Regions from separate parts of the Homo sapiens genome. Here region 2 is linked to region 1. Evidence: fine-mapped expression QTL. Tissue or cell type: fibroblasts. Region 1 holds a variant in brackets; the other region holds the start of a gene. All regions are shown on one strand. Distances are from middle to middle.

What was found. PIP is the estimated chance that this variant, and not a neighbour inherited with it, causes the effect.
Region 2: it holds the start of BAMBI, and the variant in region 1 is fine-mapped to the expression of BAMBI in fibroblasts (GTEx, PIP above 0.99).

Annotation. Positions count from the first base shown.
Region 1 is chr10:28,731,252-28,739,448 of GRCh38, forward strand. No RefSeq gene overlaps it. Among named protein-coding and RNA genes, the nearest start is that of LINC01517, 8.3 kb to the right of the region's middle. The variant G/A (reference allele first, on the strand shown) is at 3,950.
Region 2 is chr10:28,673,251-28,681,424 of GRCh38, forward strand. It overlaps BAMBI (BMP and activin membrane bound inhibitor), which reads left to right and starts at 4,271. Exons shown (of 3, transcript NM_012342.3): 1 at 4,271-4,723; 2 at 8,008-8,174. The coding sequence starts at 4,648. RefSeq lists silencers at 3,739-4,298, 5,024-5,168.

The DNA of each region.
Region 1 (8,197 bases):
TCTTTCTCTCTCTGTTTCTCTCTCTCTCTCTTTCTCTCTCTGTCTTTTCTTTTCTTTTCCTTTTCTTTCTAGACAGAGTTTCACTCTGTCACCCAGGCTGTAGTGCAGTGGCATAATCTCGGCTCACTGCAACCTCTGCCTCCCAGATTAAAGCAATTCTTGTGTGTCAGCCTCCCGAGTAGCTGGGATTATAGGCCTGCACCACCATGCCTGGTCAATTTCTGTATTTTTTGTAGAGATGGGGTTTCTCTATGTTGGCCAGGCTGGTCTCAAACTCCTGGCCTCAAGGGATCTACCAGCCTTGGCCTCCCAAAGTGCTGGGATAACAGGCGTGAGCCACTGCGCCCAGTCTTCTTGTTTCTATTGTTACAAGACTCATTTTGAAGGGTAAGGACTTTGCTTAAGATCTGTTTTGTTTTTCCCTTTCTGTTGTATTTATTTATTTTGTGACAGAATCTTGCTCTGTCACCCAGGTAGGAGTGCAGTGGCATGGATCTCAGCTCACTGAAACCTCTGCCACCTGGGTTGAAGCGATCCTCCCACCTCTGCCTCCCAAGTAGCTGGGGTTACAGGCACACACCACCACGCCCACTAATTTTTGTATTTTTCTGTTGAGACAGGGATCTCGCCATGTTGCCCAGGCTGATCTCGAACTTCTGAGCTCAAATGATCCTCCTGCCTGGGTCTCCTTAAGTGCTGGAATTACAGGCGTGAGCAACCTTGCTCAGCCTCAGTGGTATTCTTGCTTTCAGCACCACAGATACATTCATTCATTCATTTACTCTCTTAATTTACTAAGTACCTCAAATGTGCCAGAAATGGTTCTAGGCACTGGGGACACAGTGACCAAGACACATCTAATCTCTGCCTCTAGGAAATTATATTCTAATGGAAGGAGCTAAAAAATGAGTGAGCAAATGCAGTAACTGGTAAGTCTATAAGTCCTGCAGAGGGAAATAGGCAGAGAAAGTGTTGACCGGCTGGGCGTGTGTGTAGCCAGGAGAGTGAGGTTGCTATTTTAAGTAGGTGGTCAGGAAAGGCCTCGCTGATAACCTGTGTCTCACCAAGAGCTGAAGGATGTGAGGGAGTTGTGTGATGTCTGGGGTGAAACAGTTCCAGGCGGAAGAAACCCCAAAGGCACAGGCATTTACGTGGGAACATGTGAGGGGGGCCGGTTTTCAGAGCTCAGTAAGTGCTTAGGAGAGGCGTAGGGGACGCAGTTGGTGTGGGATGCTTGTGTGTTGCGAGGTAGATTATCAAAGGCCTTGTAGGCCTCGAAAGGGCTTGGTCATTTACTCTGAAGGAGGTGGGAAGCCTCTGGGGGATTTTGGATAGAGGAATGCCATGACTGACCTGTTATAAAAAGACCACTCTGGCTGCTGTGTTGAGAGAAAAACTGCAAGAGGTGATGGAAAGATTGGTTAGGAGGCTGTTAATAATCCGGGTGAGAGATGAGAAGGCTTAGATCAGCGTGGCTGGGATGGAGGTGTGAGAAGTGTTGGATTCCGATCTATACTTTTTTTTTTTTTTTTTTTTTGGGACAGAGTCTCGCTCTGTCGCCCAGGCTGGAGTGCAGTGGCTTGATCTTGGCTCACTGCAACCTCCGCCTCCTGAGTTCAAGCAATTCTCCTGCCTCAGCTCCCCAAGTAGCTGGGATTACAGGCACCCATCATCACACCCGGCTAATTTTTTGCATTTTTACTAGAGACAGGGTTTTGCCATGTTGGCCAGGCTAGTCTCGAACTCTTGACCTCAGGTGATCCGCCCACCTCGGCCTCCCAAAGTGCTGGGATTACAGGCATGAGCCACTGAGCCTGGCCTGATCTATTACTAAAGTAGAGAAAAAAAGATTTGCTGATAGATTGGATGTGGGCATGAGAGGAAAAAAAAGTGGAGGGAAGTTGGGTGTGCTGTCCCATTAAGTGGGGGACCCAAGAGAGCCATTCTCCTGACAAAATGAGTTTCTGCTGGCGAGCCCAGGGGACAGCAGTATGGTGCCCAGGAATAAGACAGGACCCACCTTTCTTACTACAGACTTCTTTCTAGGGAGCTAAGACAGGGTGGGTCCCCAGCTCTACAACTATTCTATCTATCTGTCTGTCTATCTATCATCTATCTATCTATCTATCTATCTATCTATCTATCTATCTATCTATCTATCTATCTAATCTATCATTTATATCTATTATCTATCTATCTATCTATCTATCTATCTATCTATCTATCATCTCATAAGTTAATTTTTGAGTATGTAATCCATTCACACCCAACAGGTATGGAAAAGAAGGGTATTTTTTCCTATGATTAGCTCTTTGATATACTTACTATTTTTATAATTCTTTCTTTCAAATTTATTTCTGCTTTTATTTGCTGTTTATTCTGCCTGCTTTTTCCTATGATTAGCTCTGTTATATACTTATTAGTTTTATAATTCTTTCTTTCAAATTTATTTCTGCTTTTATTTACTGTTTCTTCTGCCTGCTTTTTCCTGATTTAGATGCTTTATTTATTTCAATTCTTCTTGTATGCATTTAAGGCTACACATTTCCCTCGTAGCACTGCTTTGGATGTCCTTTGTGCATATCATATGGCTTCATTAGCTCTTTAGAATCATTCACAAAGCCTCTTCTCAAGGCATGAGCCTGTCACCAGGCTAAATCAGGACAGATTTAAGTCATGAACCAGGGTCAATGCTCATCTTGTTCCTCAGCCCTTACCTAGGGAGTTACCTGTGTGCTTCTCCTTCTGCCCTCAGGGAGAATTCTCTCTCAGGGACCTCATTGTCCTGTTAAGCCCATCAGATATATTTAAATGATTTTGAATAGCAAGGGGAAAAGATCTCTTTCTCTGCAAGAGTCTTCCTGTTCCTATGTAAATTCCTGGGGCAAATAGGTGAGTGGGCAGAAGAATTCTGTCCAACTCCACTCACAGCACTCATAGTCCAAATCCCAGTAGGTTGGGGTAGTGGCTGTTGAAGAACCCCACCTCACCCCTAGAGCTGCTGCCCATGTATCCTCTTGCACCTACATTATTTCATTTAAGCTTCATGATGATTTTGCAAGGTAGTAATTTCAATCCCCATTTTCACAGACAGATACAGGTGCTTAAGAAGATAAAACAACTTACATGTGTTTACACAGCAAGTGCCAGAAATGGGATTCAAACTCAGGCCTGCTTTCAAATATGGACCTCTTCCACTCTACCAGGATGCCGTCCCAAATTTTTTTTTTTTTTTTTGGTTTTGAGACGGAGTTTCACTCTTGTTGCCCAGGCTGGAGTGGTTTGATCTTGGCTCAGTGCAACCTCTGCCTCTCGGTTTCAAGCGATTCTCCTGCCTTAGCCTCCTGAGTAGCTGGGACTACAGGTGTGCATCACCACCCCTGGCTAATTTTTGTATTTTTAATAGAGACGGGGTTTCACCATGTTGACCAGGCTGGTATTGAACTCCTGACCTCAGGAGATCTGCCTGCCTTGGCCTCCCAAAGTGCTGGGATTACAGGCGTGAGCCACCGCACCCAGCCAACCTTCCCAAAAGTTTTAATACTCATGCTTCAGTTATGCAATTGTGTCAGGAAGTGATGCATCCTTTCTAAATTATGTTTTGAGATAATCAAAGCTTAGCCTTTTAAGCACCAACATTTTGTAAACTTTTGTAGACAAAAATATTCGTAGAATGTGTTACATATTTTTCACTTTCTTAAACAGAGCATGCTGGACAGATTTTAAACTTTGCTTGATGATTCATGTCATGTTTAAGAGCATCAATTATTATGTAATGCCATATTATAGGGAGTTTAAGTATCTTGCCCAAGGCTAGACAGCTGTTAAATGGGGAAACTGTTCAAATGCAGGCAGTCTGGCTACAGAGCCCATGTTCTTAGCAACTATGCTATCATGCCTCACCAAGTGCTCAAAAGAATTAGAGATCGCTGTGGGCTGGAGATGAGTC[G/A]TCCCAATAGTATTGGTTGCTCTGGCAAAGAGCAGGGAGGCAGAATCTGAAGCCATCCAGCAAACTTAGCAGGGGTGGAGATCAGGGTCCACTTTGCTGACATTTCAGAATAGAGAAATGCCATGTCATAGCAAAAGTCCAGGAAGAACCAGATCAGAGATAGAGGGGTGAAACAAAAAGTGGATATTGGCCAAGTGTGACTCATGCCTCTAATCCCAGTGCTTTGGGAGGCTGAACTGGGAGGATTGCTTGAAGCCAGGAGTTCGAGACCAGCCTGGGCAACATGATGAGACCCTGTCTCTATAAACAATTTTTACAAAGAAAATATTAGCCAGGCATGCTGGCATGCACCTGTTGTCCCAACTACTCAGGATCCTGAGGCAGGAGGATCGCTTGAGCCCAGGAGTTTGAGGCTGTAGGAAGCCATGATTGTGCCACTGCACTCCAACCTGTGTGACAGAGTGAGACCCTGTCTCTAAAACAAAACAAAACAAAACAAACAGACAAACAAACAAAACCCAAAACATGACTATCAAGGAATCTATGCATAAGAACCTGAGATGAAAATCACATGTTAGAGTTTCTTGTGGGAGGAGGAGTGCTGATAAATGGCACCTGTTTTTCCTGCTCAAGTTCTGAAAAACCTGACAGGTCCAGAGTAGCAGATGGGCCACAGTTCTCCTTTATTTTTGTTCAAGGTTAAATTGGAAGCCATAGCTCACTGCAAGAACCAAATGGACCTGTGAAGTAATTCCAAAATTCAACATACTTACCCCACACTCATGTAGGCACTGGACCAGGTAAAACTTACAGCATGGAGAAACAGAGGACTCTTGGTGCTTGCAGTTAAGTTCACTTCCAAGAGGGAAAAGGGTGTAGCTGATCCAAGAATGCCTATGACCATAAGAAGTACATTGCCCGATGTGCAGCAAGTCAGTATACCAACACTGAGGGTTGCAGCAGAGAAAGAGGTTTAATCGTAAGGCCGCTGAACAAGGAGACAGGAGGAAACCTCAAATCCACCTCCCCAAGGAGTTTGGGGCTAGGAATATACATAAATGCAAGTATAGGACTTGCATTTATATATATTTCTATATTCCTATATTTGCATATATGTATAATATATATATTATATATATAAAAATGGAAGTTAGGACTCTCTCTCTCTCTCTCCGTAGGTCTTGCCTTCCTCCCACCTCAGTCTCCCGAGTAGCTGGGACTACAGGTGTGTACCACCATGTCTGGCTAATTTTTTATTTTTTGTAGAGATAGGGGTCTCACTATGCTGGCGTGGCTGGGGGGCCAGGGATTTTAATGGGTTTAGAGTGGATTGAGCTGTAGGGATTTTTCATGGGTTGAAGAGTGCAGGGTGAAGTCATAGGATGGGGTGATGAAGAAGCTATTTTCATGCGGACTCGGTTCCTCTGTGGGGTCTTCAAACTGGTTTGTGTCAGCCGTTTCACTAGAATGCAGGGTCTGAAAAGCATCTTAAGTAATTCTTAAACAAAAGCTTTATGATTCTATCATCAGAGATCCTATCTACAGGAACAGTGGGGATGCAAAAGGTCTGTATCTGGTGCTATGTGACTTTCAGTTACATGGAAGTGGGCAAAGTGCAGCCTGATGAATGCTTAATTGTAACCTTATTTCTGTCCAGAACCTGCCATGGAATTCTTGTTAACCCTGTGATGATGGTTTCATGCCCAGTATATTCTTCTCAGAAAAGTGTTTCTACCTCCTCTTAGACAGAGTGAATAAGAGACGGTGAGAGGCCAGATGTTATATTAATGTCTTGATGGTCATCCTTTTCATGGAGGAAGCACCAGAAGTTCCCCTTGTGGAGTTCTAATTAGAGAAAAGGAGTTGGGCTGGTGGGACCAAAGGAATGCAAAAAGAAGCAGATAAGCTACAAATCTGCCCTTCTTCATGATCCAAGACACATAACCCTCCTGCACAAGTAACTTACAATCTTCCTGCACTCAGCTATCACCAGACCCTCAGCTGATAGAAAAATGCAAGTTAGCTCGCTGCAACCTTGGCAATATCAGTACTGCATAAAGCCCTCTTCAGCACAAGCACAAACACTATTGTTTAAAATCCCCAGCAAGCCTTTGTCTCCTGACAGTCAGCTCCTTTTTGCTGGCCTGCCTGTTGCTCCCCTGCAACGTATTTTTCTACTTCCTCTAATAAATCTGCCTTTCTTTACCTACAACTGTCTTGGTAAATGCTTTCATCACTGGCACCACTGGTCTAGATAGTCACCACTCATCCATGACACCCCTTACCTTATAGTGAATAGATTTTAGCTGTGTATCCTGTAACTTTTCAACCATACCATGGTTCGCTAGAATTGATAACACTTTTCAACCCTATCCCGATAGTAGTTGTCAGGAAATGCTAGTGAAAGAGTTTGGAATTAAACTAGCATTCTAGCCGAGCATGGTGGCTCACATCTGTAGTCCCAGCTAATAGGAAGGCTGAGGCAGGAGGATCAATTAAATCCAGGAATTCAAGGATGCAGTGAGCTATGATTGTGCCACTGAACTCCAGCATGGGTGACAGAGCAAGATGCCATCCCTAACAAAAAACAAAAGCAAAAGAAAAAACTGAGAGTCCAAAGATGTGTTTGATTTAAATAAGTAGAAAGAGCAAGATCATTATTCTAGACAGAAGGAAACAATTTGAGCCAAGAAATATTCATTCTGTATTTAGGGGACAAATACATGAGCTGACTAATTTGAAGAGTTTCTAAAAAGCTAAGTTTGAGCAAGCCATGCCTGGCGAAGAAGTTGAAGGTTTCCAGCGATCACATGTGGAATCAGATGGTCTGACTACTGAGCTTTCTATCTTTGAAAAAACCCTGTGGATGTATAAATGTTCTACAATTTTATGCCAGTCATTTGCCTGTTTGCTATCAGATTCATTCTCTACCCTTCCCTTGCTCTGGTCTGTATTGTAGGAAAATCATTTTCCAGAATTTCCATAATTGCCTTCTGGCTGGGTTTGGCCAATGGGAGGCACTGGCATGAGATTGGAGGGTAAGTGGTAGGAAGAGATCAAGGCACATTTTGTCCTCTCTTTCTGGCATCTCCAATAGTAATCATGTCTCTTCTAGGTTCCTGATCCCAGAAGATGTCCCTGCGGTGGTTCCACCTTCCACCAGCTTCTGCCAGATCCTGGACTCCAGGAACACTGCCCCCTTCAGGCCAACTTTTTGGACTTCCTCACTGTCTTCTGAGCCCCCAGGTCTTCCAACACTTTTGCAGCCACTTCCCTGTATTAAATGCCCTCTGTTTGAAATATCTAGAATAATTTTCATTTTCATGGTTGGACTGATTCACCACTTTCCCTCCCACTCAAATTCAGTAAGATCTACTATCTTATGACAGATATCTACCCACTCATTGCTTCCCGATGCAGACATAAACTTGGATCCCAGGCCGTGGAAGAGCAGGTCAAGGTTTGCTCCTTAGAATTGTTGCTTTGGTGACATGTGGAGAAGGATGGTGGTTGCTGAGACTAGAGGAGACTTGTTGAGAGACAATTGCAATGATTCAAGAGGGAGAGGACAAAGGTGTAAAGTCAGACTGTTTCACTGCAGAGGTAGAGTGGGGAAAGGGACACGAGAGATGCAGAAGAGGCAGAATCAGGTCCCTGATTGGATGGGGCATTTTGGGAAGATGAAGGAGGCTGGAATGATTCCCAGGTTCCTCCAGAGTGAATGGATGGCACTTGTGTTCTTGACTGAGCTTGAGGACACAAGAAGAGGGGCAGCAGATCTAGATGGCTAGGAAGATCATGAGTTTGTGGCACGTTGAGTTTGGGGGGCATGTTGTACTCAGGAAAGGGCAGGAGAGAGATGGTTTAATGTCACAGCATAGGTGATAAGAGATCTATGGATATATAGGTGAAATCCCCGGGAGATGTGGATAGAAAAGAGTTAAAGGCAGAACATGGAAGAGCCTCAACATGGACAGAGAAGGCAGAGGACTGAGTTGGAACAGCCCGAGAGCTCAGAGGAGAGCCAGGGAAGAGCAACATCATGGAGGCCAAGGGAGAGCATGGTTCAAAAAGGGAATGGTCACTGTGTCAAAGCCTGCTTTTAAAGCAAACTAAATATGGCCTGAGAAGGACTCCATACTTCTATATTTGAGTCCTTGTGGATGAACTGTAACCTAGCTTAATAGGCAGACAAAATTGAAACCCTAACTTCACAGTATGCACCTGTAACAATAGCTAAGTCTTGGC
Region 2 (8,174 bases), 58 kb before region 1:
TAACGAGATTTATGGACACAGGTTATGAAGAGAGTACACCCTAAGTGAGGTCATCAATGAACAGAATTCTTGTTCTTATCCTTGGTATTAAGGGAAGAACTTCTGATGCGCTTTTCTCAGATTGTATAATCTTCCTTTGTTCTATCTGGTCACCTAACAAATAAGCTCCTATTCTGCTATGAATCCCTTAAACACAAATAACTCTCTGATAAGATAGTCAAGCTCACACCTGTAATCCCAGCTACTTGGGAGGCTAAGGTGGGAGGGTCACTCGAGGCTAGAAGTTTGGGACCAGCCTGGGCAACATAAGGAGACTCTGTCTCAACAAAAAGTATAGAAATTAGCCCCATGCAGTGGGGAGCACCTTAGCTACTTGGGAGGCTGGGGCCAGTGGTTCGAGGCTACAGTGAGCTATGATTGCAGCGCTGTACTCCAGCCTGAGTAACAGAGGGAGGCCTTCGTCTCTAAAAAAGCAAAAAAAAGCAAGTAACTCTCTACTCTCCCATTCACAATTTAGTGCCATTTAGTTACATGTTTAGCCTATAATTTCAAAGACATCATTTAAAATCTTTAAAACATCTATACGGCCAGCATGGTGGCTCACACCTATAATCCCAGCACTTTTGGAGGCTCAGGCAGGAGGATTGCTTGAGCCCAGGAATTCTGAGACCAGCCTCAGTAACATAGGGAGACCACCATCTCTACAAAAAAATTAAAAAATTAGTCGGGCATGGTGGCTCGCGCCTATATATATACATATATATCTCCCATGGATAAATTATATCTTGAATGCTGTTTGAAGGTAATAAAAAACTATTCTACTGTTTAACGGTTTCAGTTAGGTCTAGAATCAGTTTTCTGTTCTTGGGTATAGAGAGCTTGTTCCTAGGTATTTTCGGAATCCCTTTGTAGATGTAAAAAGAATTTTGGTCGTTGATTTCATTTCTTGCTTTAAACTTCAAAAGGACAGTAGATTGTACTATTTTTTTTCCCTCTACTTATCAACCTACATGTAGGAAAGTAATAACTGAATTATGTGCAAAGCATAAGTAAAATTCTCTAGAGAAGCAATTTTCCTTAAGAATGTTAAATTGAATTAAAATTGTTGCCTATTCTCTCAACTATTGATATGGCCTTATGATTGACACATTATCCCTAAACTGATTTTGATATTCTACATTGATTCAAACACTCTGATTCATTTAGTTGAAAAGTCCATGTCTTCCCCAGAACCATTAGATAAAGTGCGGACTTGTTTCTCTTTAATTTCTGGTCATTTAGAAAGTTTGCCCATTAATAATAAAAACAAAATAGTTGAAATCATTGTCTAAAAAATGGATCCCAAGTTCTTATTCAGAATTGGACTTGGAACAAAAAAATATATACAACCTGGAGTGCTCAAAGTCAACATTAATTCAATAAAATACAAATATCTTAGTTTGGTTTCTTTGGGTTGCAAGGAAAAGAACCTTAAGTAAAAAGGGGACTTTATTAAGGTTACTGAATTAACCTAAGGACAAGAAGTGACGCTGAGTGCCTGGAAATCCATTTGGATTTATGTATTTGCCACTTTGCATATCTTCATTATTTTTCTTCCTCTGCAGACAGGTGGACTACAGCTGCCCCAAAGCAAAATTTTTATGTCTCCCGTGAAATGACCTCAAGGGACTGAGCAGCATGTCTGCTCAAAGACACAGAAGAGAGAATCTAACTGACCTAACCTGGGTCATGTGACTAGCTATGGCCAGAGATTAGGAGATCAGAGTCTCCTAATCAGGTTGCCAACGCCCACTCCGGGAAAAGGGACATTCTCTGACTTGGGCTGGGAGACACTCAGAAAGTGTCTACTAGAATGCAACTTTCACCAACACATTCCCCAGACCTCTTCCATTAAATATTTATCTGTATCAAAGGGAAGTATAGTTCATTTCTGATACGTCTCTGTTCACTTCTTCACATTTTATGCTGCAATCACAAAGACTTGCTTGTCATCCCAACTACCTGTTCGCTGCTTACCACTCCTACTCACCTACACAATCATATTTCATGCCTAAGTCCTGTGGTCCTCTGTGCTTGTAATGGTCTTCTTCCAATCCTTAATGTCATTGCTTCTAGACTTTACCGGCTCTCTTTACCTTCCTAGACTAGTTAACCTCTTTCTTTTAGGCATTGTAACATCATGCACATAAATCTCCATTATTGTCCAGCTCCATTGTTTTGAGATTTACTATCTAGTTTCTGACATCTTTATACCCCCAGACATTGCAAGCCTCGCCTACGGTGGGAGGCCAGGTTGAACTAACATACCCTGAAAGTTTCCTTTTAGCTAATAATTGACTCTAAAAGAGAGTGTAATCATTACATAAAAAGTATTGTCCTCTGGGCGCGGTGGCTCACGCCTGTAAATCCCAGCACTTTGGGAGGCCGAGGCGGGCGGATCACGAGGTCGGAAGTTCGAGAGCAGCCTGACCAACATGGCGAAACCTCGTCTCTATAAAAATACAGAAATTAGCCAGGCGTGGAGACAGGTGCCTGTAATCCCAGCTACTCAGGAGGCTGAGGCAGGAGAATGGCTTGAACCCGGGAGGCGGAAGGTTGCAGTGAGCCGAGATCGCGCCACTGTACTCCAGCCTGGGCGACAGTGCCAGACTCGTCTCAAAAAAAAAAAAAAAAAAAAAAAAAGTCTTGTCTGCATAAAACCCTTACAATTGTTAACTTGTCAAGGTTCTAGTAGCCAGGAAGTTCTAATCAAACTCGGCCCCAGGACTGCCTTGTCAGCACGCCCCTTGAGAAACTTTTCTGAGAAACCTGCTGTTTACCTGGTGCCCTAACCAGTTTAATTTTCTTTTAAAACTTCTACTGGATTTCTCCTTCTCTCCTTTTAGATGCAATTTTGATCTAGAGAAGTAATGGTCTGAGCATCAGTTTATGAAATTATTTTATTTTTCTGCACATAAACATTATTTTTCAAAGACAATTTCATTAACTACATCCTGCAGCTCTGCAGACTTTCAACAACTTTAAAAGGTTAGGCGTTTGAGATATGTTCGCCTTGACTTTCAGTCCTCAAGACATATGTACATTTTTCTTAGTCTCAAAGCTCATGTCTGCACTCTAGTCCTAAAGGATTTGTCTTTATAATTCTCACCTTAGCATGAAATGTGCTTCTCTTTCTTTCCTTCCCCACCCCCCACCCCCTTTTGACATATCCGGTAGGGAAGCTCTGGCAGATTCTCAAGAAGAATTTTGCAAATGGTCGACTTTTGTTCATCTCAGGTTTTGGAGGGAGAGGATAAAAGAACATTCCCTCAGATAATGAGTTTTAACCTTAATTCCTTCCAAAGCGGAGGGGGAAACAAAACTACAGCAAGACCACCTTGAGTACCTTGGGAAGGGCAGCCCCGCGATCCCTAATAAATGAATTAGCATCTCAAGGAGGAGATCACTGCGGGGCTGATATTGATCAGGGTCAGCCGGCGTGTTTGCCAGCCATTGTTTGGGGGGTGGTTAATTGAGTGTCAGTCTCGGCCAGTGTCGTCTCGTTGGCGCCGGGTGCTTTTGGATTTGCTAATTTTCGTTAAGTGTCTCTAGCCCGCTACTCGTCCCGCGTACCCGGGAGAACCTAGCGGCTCCTAACGGATCAACAGTCAGTCTGTCTGGGCTTTATTGATCCCATGGCGGGCAGCTCGAGGCGGACACGCTGAGGGGGTGGGGGGCGAAGGCTGAATGCAGACCCCAGCGCTGGGCCGCCTCCCCCGGGCTCCCACCCGAACCCTCCTCCGCCACCTGCACAGGCCGGGGCATTGTCACTCGCCCCTGGGGGTTCCAGAAAACGCAGTGCGGCCGGGGAGGACGACCACACGGACCCCCTGCGTGTTTCGGGGGGCACCCAAAAGAAGCCCCGCGCTGGGGAACGCTGACCACCCGAGGCTGAGCCGTCAGGGTCTCGGAGGCGGGTTCCCGAGCCGGTCCCGGGGCTGGGCTCCCCCGGCGCCTCGCGAAGGTCACTGACGCGCAGGCCTCCGCAAGGGGGAGCGCGGGAGACGGCAGCGCACCAGCCGGGCGCCCCAGCCGGGCGCCCCAGACGCCGGCGCCGCTCGGAGCCGCCGGGCAGGTCCCCCAGCGCTCGCGTCTGGGCCCGCCCCCCGCTGCGGGGCGGATTGACAGGAGCCCGGCGGCCAATCGGACGCCGTGGGGCGGGGCGAGGCGGGGCGGTGCAGGCCGGCTCCCGGCGCGGGGCGCTATTTACGGCGCGGAGCCGGAGAGACCTGGGCTGGCGCGGGCGGGAGCTGCGGCGGATACCCTTGCGTGCTGTGGAGACCCTACTCTCTTCGCTGAGAACGGCCGCTAGCGGGGACTGAAGGCCGGGAGCCCACTCCCGACCCGGGGCTAGCGTGCGTCCCTAGAGTCGAGCGGGGCAAGGGAGCCAGTGGCCGCCGACGGGGGACCGGGAAACTTTTCTGGGCTCCTGGGCGCGCCCTGTAGCCGCGCTCCATGCTCCGGCAGCGGCCCGAAACCCAGCCCCGCCGCTGACGGCGCCCGCCGCTCCGGGCAGGGCCCATGCCCTGCGCGCTCCGGGGGTCGTAGGCTGCCGCCGAGCCGGGGCTCCGGAAGCCGGCGGGGGCGCCGCGGCCGTGCGGGGCGTCAATGGATCGCCACTCCAGCTACATCTTCATCTGGCTGCAGCTGGAGCTCTGCGCCATGGCCGTGCTGCTCACCAAAGGTGGGTGCCGGGGGCGCACGGGGCCCGGGGTCCCGTCCTCGCCGCGGGGCTTTGGAGCCGGCTGCAGAGGCTTTGTTAGCGGCAGGCGAGGCTCCCTCCTGCGCCGGAGCCGCAGGTCGCGACAAGTTGCTGTGTTCTTAGAAGTCGCGGCGGTGGCCTGGCGCGTGGATGCGGACTCCGATCTAAGGGCAGGCGCTGATCAGAGGGTCCTCCTGGCTCTGCCTGCGGGGAGCGGCGCGTTTGCAGCCCAGCGGGGAGCGGGGCCGGAGTCTCGGCCTCGACGCCGCCGCTTCCGCACCCTGGGGGCTCGGGCGGCCGGGAGGAATCGCAGATCCTGGCCTGTAGCTGCCGCGTGCCCTCAGCGTGTCTGTGTGAGTGCCTCAGGGTGTATTTCTGTGAGTGTGTCTCTGAGTCTCAGTATCCCTAAATGCATTTTTGTGTCTCTGAGTGTCGTTGTGTTTCTGAAAGTGTGTCTGAACCTCTGTATCACTCAGCGTATCTCTGTGTCTCTTTGAATGTATCTCTGAATGCATTTCTGTGTCTCTTTCTGAGTCTTTGTGTCTCTGAATGTGTGAGTCTCTGTATCTCTGATCTTGAGTGTGTCTTTCTGAATGCATTTCTGTGTCTGTCTCTAAGTGTCTTTGTATCTCTGAATGTGCATCTGAGTCTCTGTGTGAGTGTGTCTCTGCGTACATCTCTCTGTGTGCGAGCGAGTGTGTGGGTCTCCCTGAGAGTTTAGGTGTCCGAGGTGTGCAGAAGTGTGTGTTGTGTTGCTTTTCAGCAGCCGGGAGGAGTAGGCTCTGTCAGCGTCTCACTGCCACTCACCTCATATTTTACAAACAGGACCAAAAAAAAAAAAAAGGCAGCGGGTCAGTTTCTTCTTTCCTCTGCAGGCTTTCACCTTTTAGAAAGAAATAACCCGAACTGTCTCCGAATTTCAAGGTTCTCCTCACCTCCCTGCTGTGAAATCTACCTACTGTTCTGTGAACAGATAATTTTTTTAAGTAGGAAGCAGTTTAGTCTTTGCAGCCCCCTACTTCTCTTTAATTGCTATGTAGCAGGCATGAGGTTAAAGCATAAGCTAGCCCAGCGAGGATGATGTGCTACAGTATTTATTTATTTTGGAAGGAAGGGTGTAATTAACCCTAAATAACAGCCCTTGTGGCTTGCAGAGGGGAGCCTCCTGGCCCTATCAAAGGCGGGCAGAACAGGGAGGGACTGAGGCTGACATGAAGTCACAGATACCGAAACTATGTGCCTGATAATGATATAATTAGGGGATCAGAGATTTCTGACGGCTGCGGACTTCAAAAGCTTTAAAAGAAGCCAGCAGTCTCTCCTGTAGCCATCTTGACTAAAGCAGACATTTTTGTTTAATCACTACATACAGTAACGAGAAGGGGACAGAAACAGAAGGGCATTGTTCCACAGTTTCAAAATACCAGTCCCCTTTCTGGCCTTTTGCATGCCACAGGAAGAAACTTTATGAACGACAGAAATATAGTTTTAATACAGTGGTACAAAAGTCCATTCTCCTTGCTTAAAATGTGGCTCCAATTAAAAAAAAAAGGTAGTTAGAACTTTCCCAGTTACCTGTCAAAATTTTATTAGGCTGTTTTTAGGTCATTGAAAATAGGCTCTCATAAACATTTAAGCAGCATTTTACTTGTATTCAGTCTTCCTTTTCTGTACAAGGTCTGAAGCTAATAGGGTCAAAATGGGCTTTTAATCTGTTTTATTTATACTTTAAATCTATATATGGAATTTGTCAAACTAGGGATATGTAGTCATCACCCCAGAAGACTGGTGAGCTTTATGTGGAAAATAAAGTGAGCTTGGAGGGAGGAGGAGAAAGAGCAGAGAAGTGGTTCTGCAAAGCAAGGTTCTTACTTGAAGCAGAGAAGGAACTTGGGCCCAACCAGTGCAGATTTAGGAGCAAGACCCCTAGCTTTGGACTGTTAAGGGTTGCCAAAGATCTGTGTTTAGCGGGCTGGTTTTCCTTAGAACCGAAGCATTAGCAGCGTCCGGTGAAAACTGAGCATACAATACCGTGGTCTGGAATTTGGACAGATAATTAAATGAGACACCTTACTGGGGCGTTCAGAGAGAGGGGGAAGAATAAAGGTAAGGGTGGGAAGAGGTTTGTAAAACAGCAGATCCCGGTGTTTAATTTCAGAGTGGAGGTTTCGGATCTTCAGACGGGAAACTGGAAGAGGCGTGTGCATTAGTTTAGTTTACTCGCTGTGGCATGTGACAGCGACCAGGGTCCACTAGGTGGATATTGTATTAGTGAGAACTTGAAGACCCAGATTATTTCAACGAGAAACTGATATTAAAGCCTCCAATCTTGCCCTGCGACAAAATGTGAACGGAGCCATGCAACTCACAAAATAAGTTTTTATAAAGGAAACTTTTAATCACTTCCTGTAGAAAATTTGAGGTTTCCTTAAGGATTTTTCATTCAACCAGCAGAGGATTTTCAGTTTCAGTGTTTCCCCTTTTAGATCACATGTCGAATTACATGTAAAACTTGTGAGGAGGAGGAGGAGAAGTTAGCCTTGCAGTTTTATACTCCCCCCACCTTTTATGACTTTCCATTTGGGCTGAAAGAAATTGACTTTGGCAAGCAAACCACTAATTGTAAACTGCCTAGTTCCTGTTTTACAATATACTGACTAAAAGCTCCTCTGCATGAAAAGATCTTTATAGGCAAAAAGTTTGCCTTTTCTAGAGAGGTTGCAAATAGCTGCCTAGTTTCATAGTTTTAAAACCTCCTGACCTGGGCAGTTTCTAGATTGTTGTGTTTCTAGTTAATAACTTTATAAGGTGTTAGCTAAAGCTCTTAACTCTTGGTGCAGTCCTGTGGGATAGTAAACAATTCAGTAGTTCCGATCAAATATTTATACTGACAAAATCAAAAAGCCTAACATTTTTATGTTGTATGGTCATGTAGGATTAAAATGAATAAATAATGTGTTATACCTTATGGTAGGAGAAATTATACTCATTACTATTTCCTTCAAAAAGCAAAAGTTTTTTTAAAATGACTCTAAACTCCTCAGAAACCTGCTATTGGGATTACTACATTGCCAAAATGACGTTTAACTGGATTGAAACTTACGCACTGGCTGCAGGAAGGGCTTCTCCAGGCTCTGTAGACTGGAGCCCTCAGCTTGGATGATCTAAAAGTTCATGCCTTTGAATTTGGGATTTAGCAGTTGCCTAAATAGTTGCTTTATCTGGTCTCTGGAGCAGAGTTTGAGGTGGTTTCTCATTGTTTTCAGGTGAAATTCGATGCTACTGTGATGCTGCCCACTGTGTAGCCACTGGTTATATGTGTAAATCTGAGCTCAGCGCCTGCTTCTCTAGACTTCTTGATCCTCAGAACTCAAATTCCCCACTCACCCATGGCTGCCTGGACTCTCTTGCAAGCACGACAGACATCTGCCAA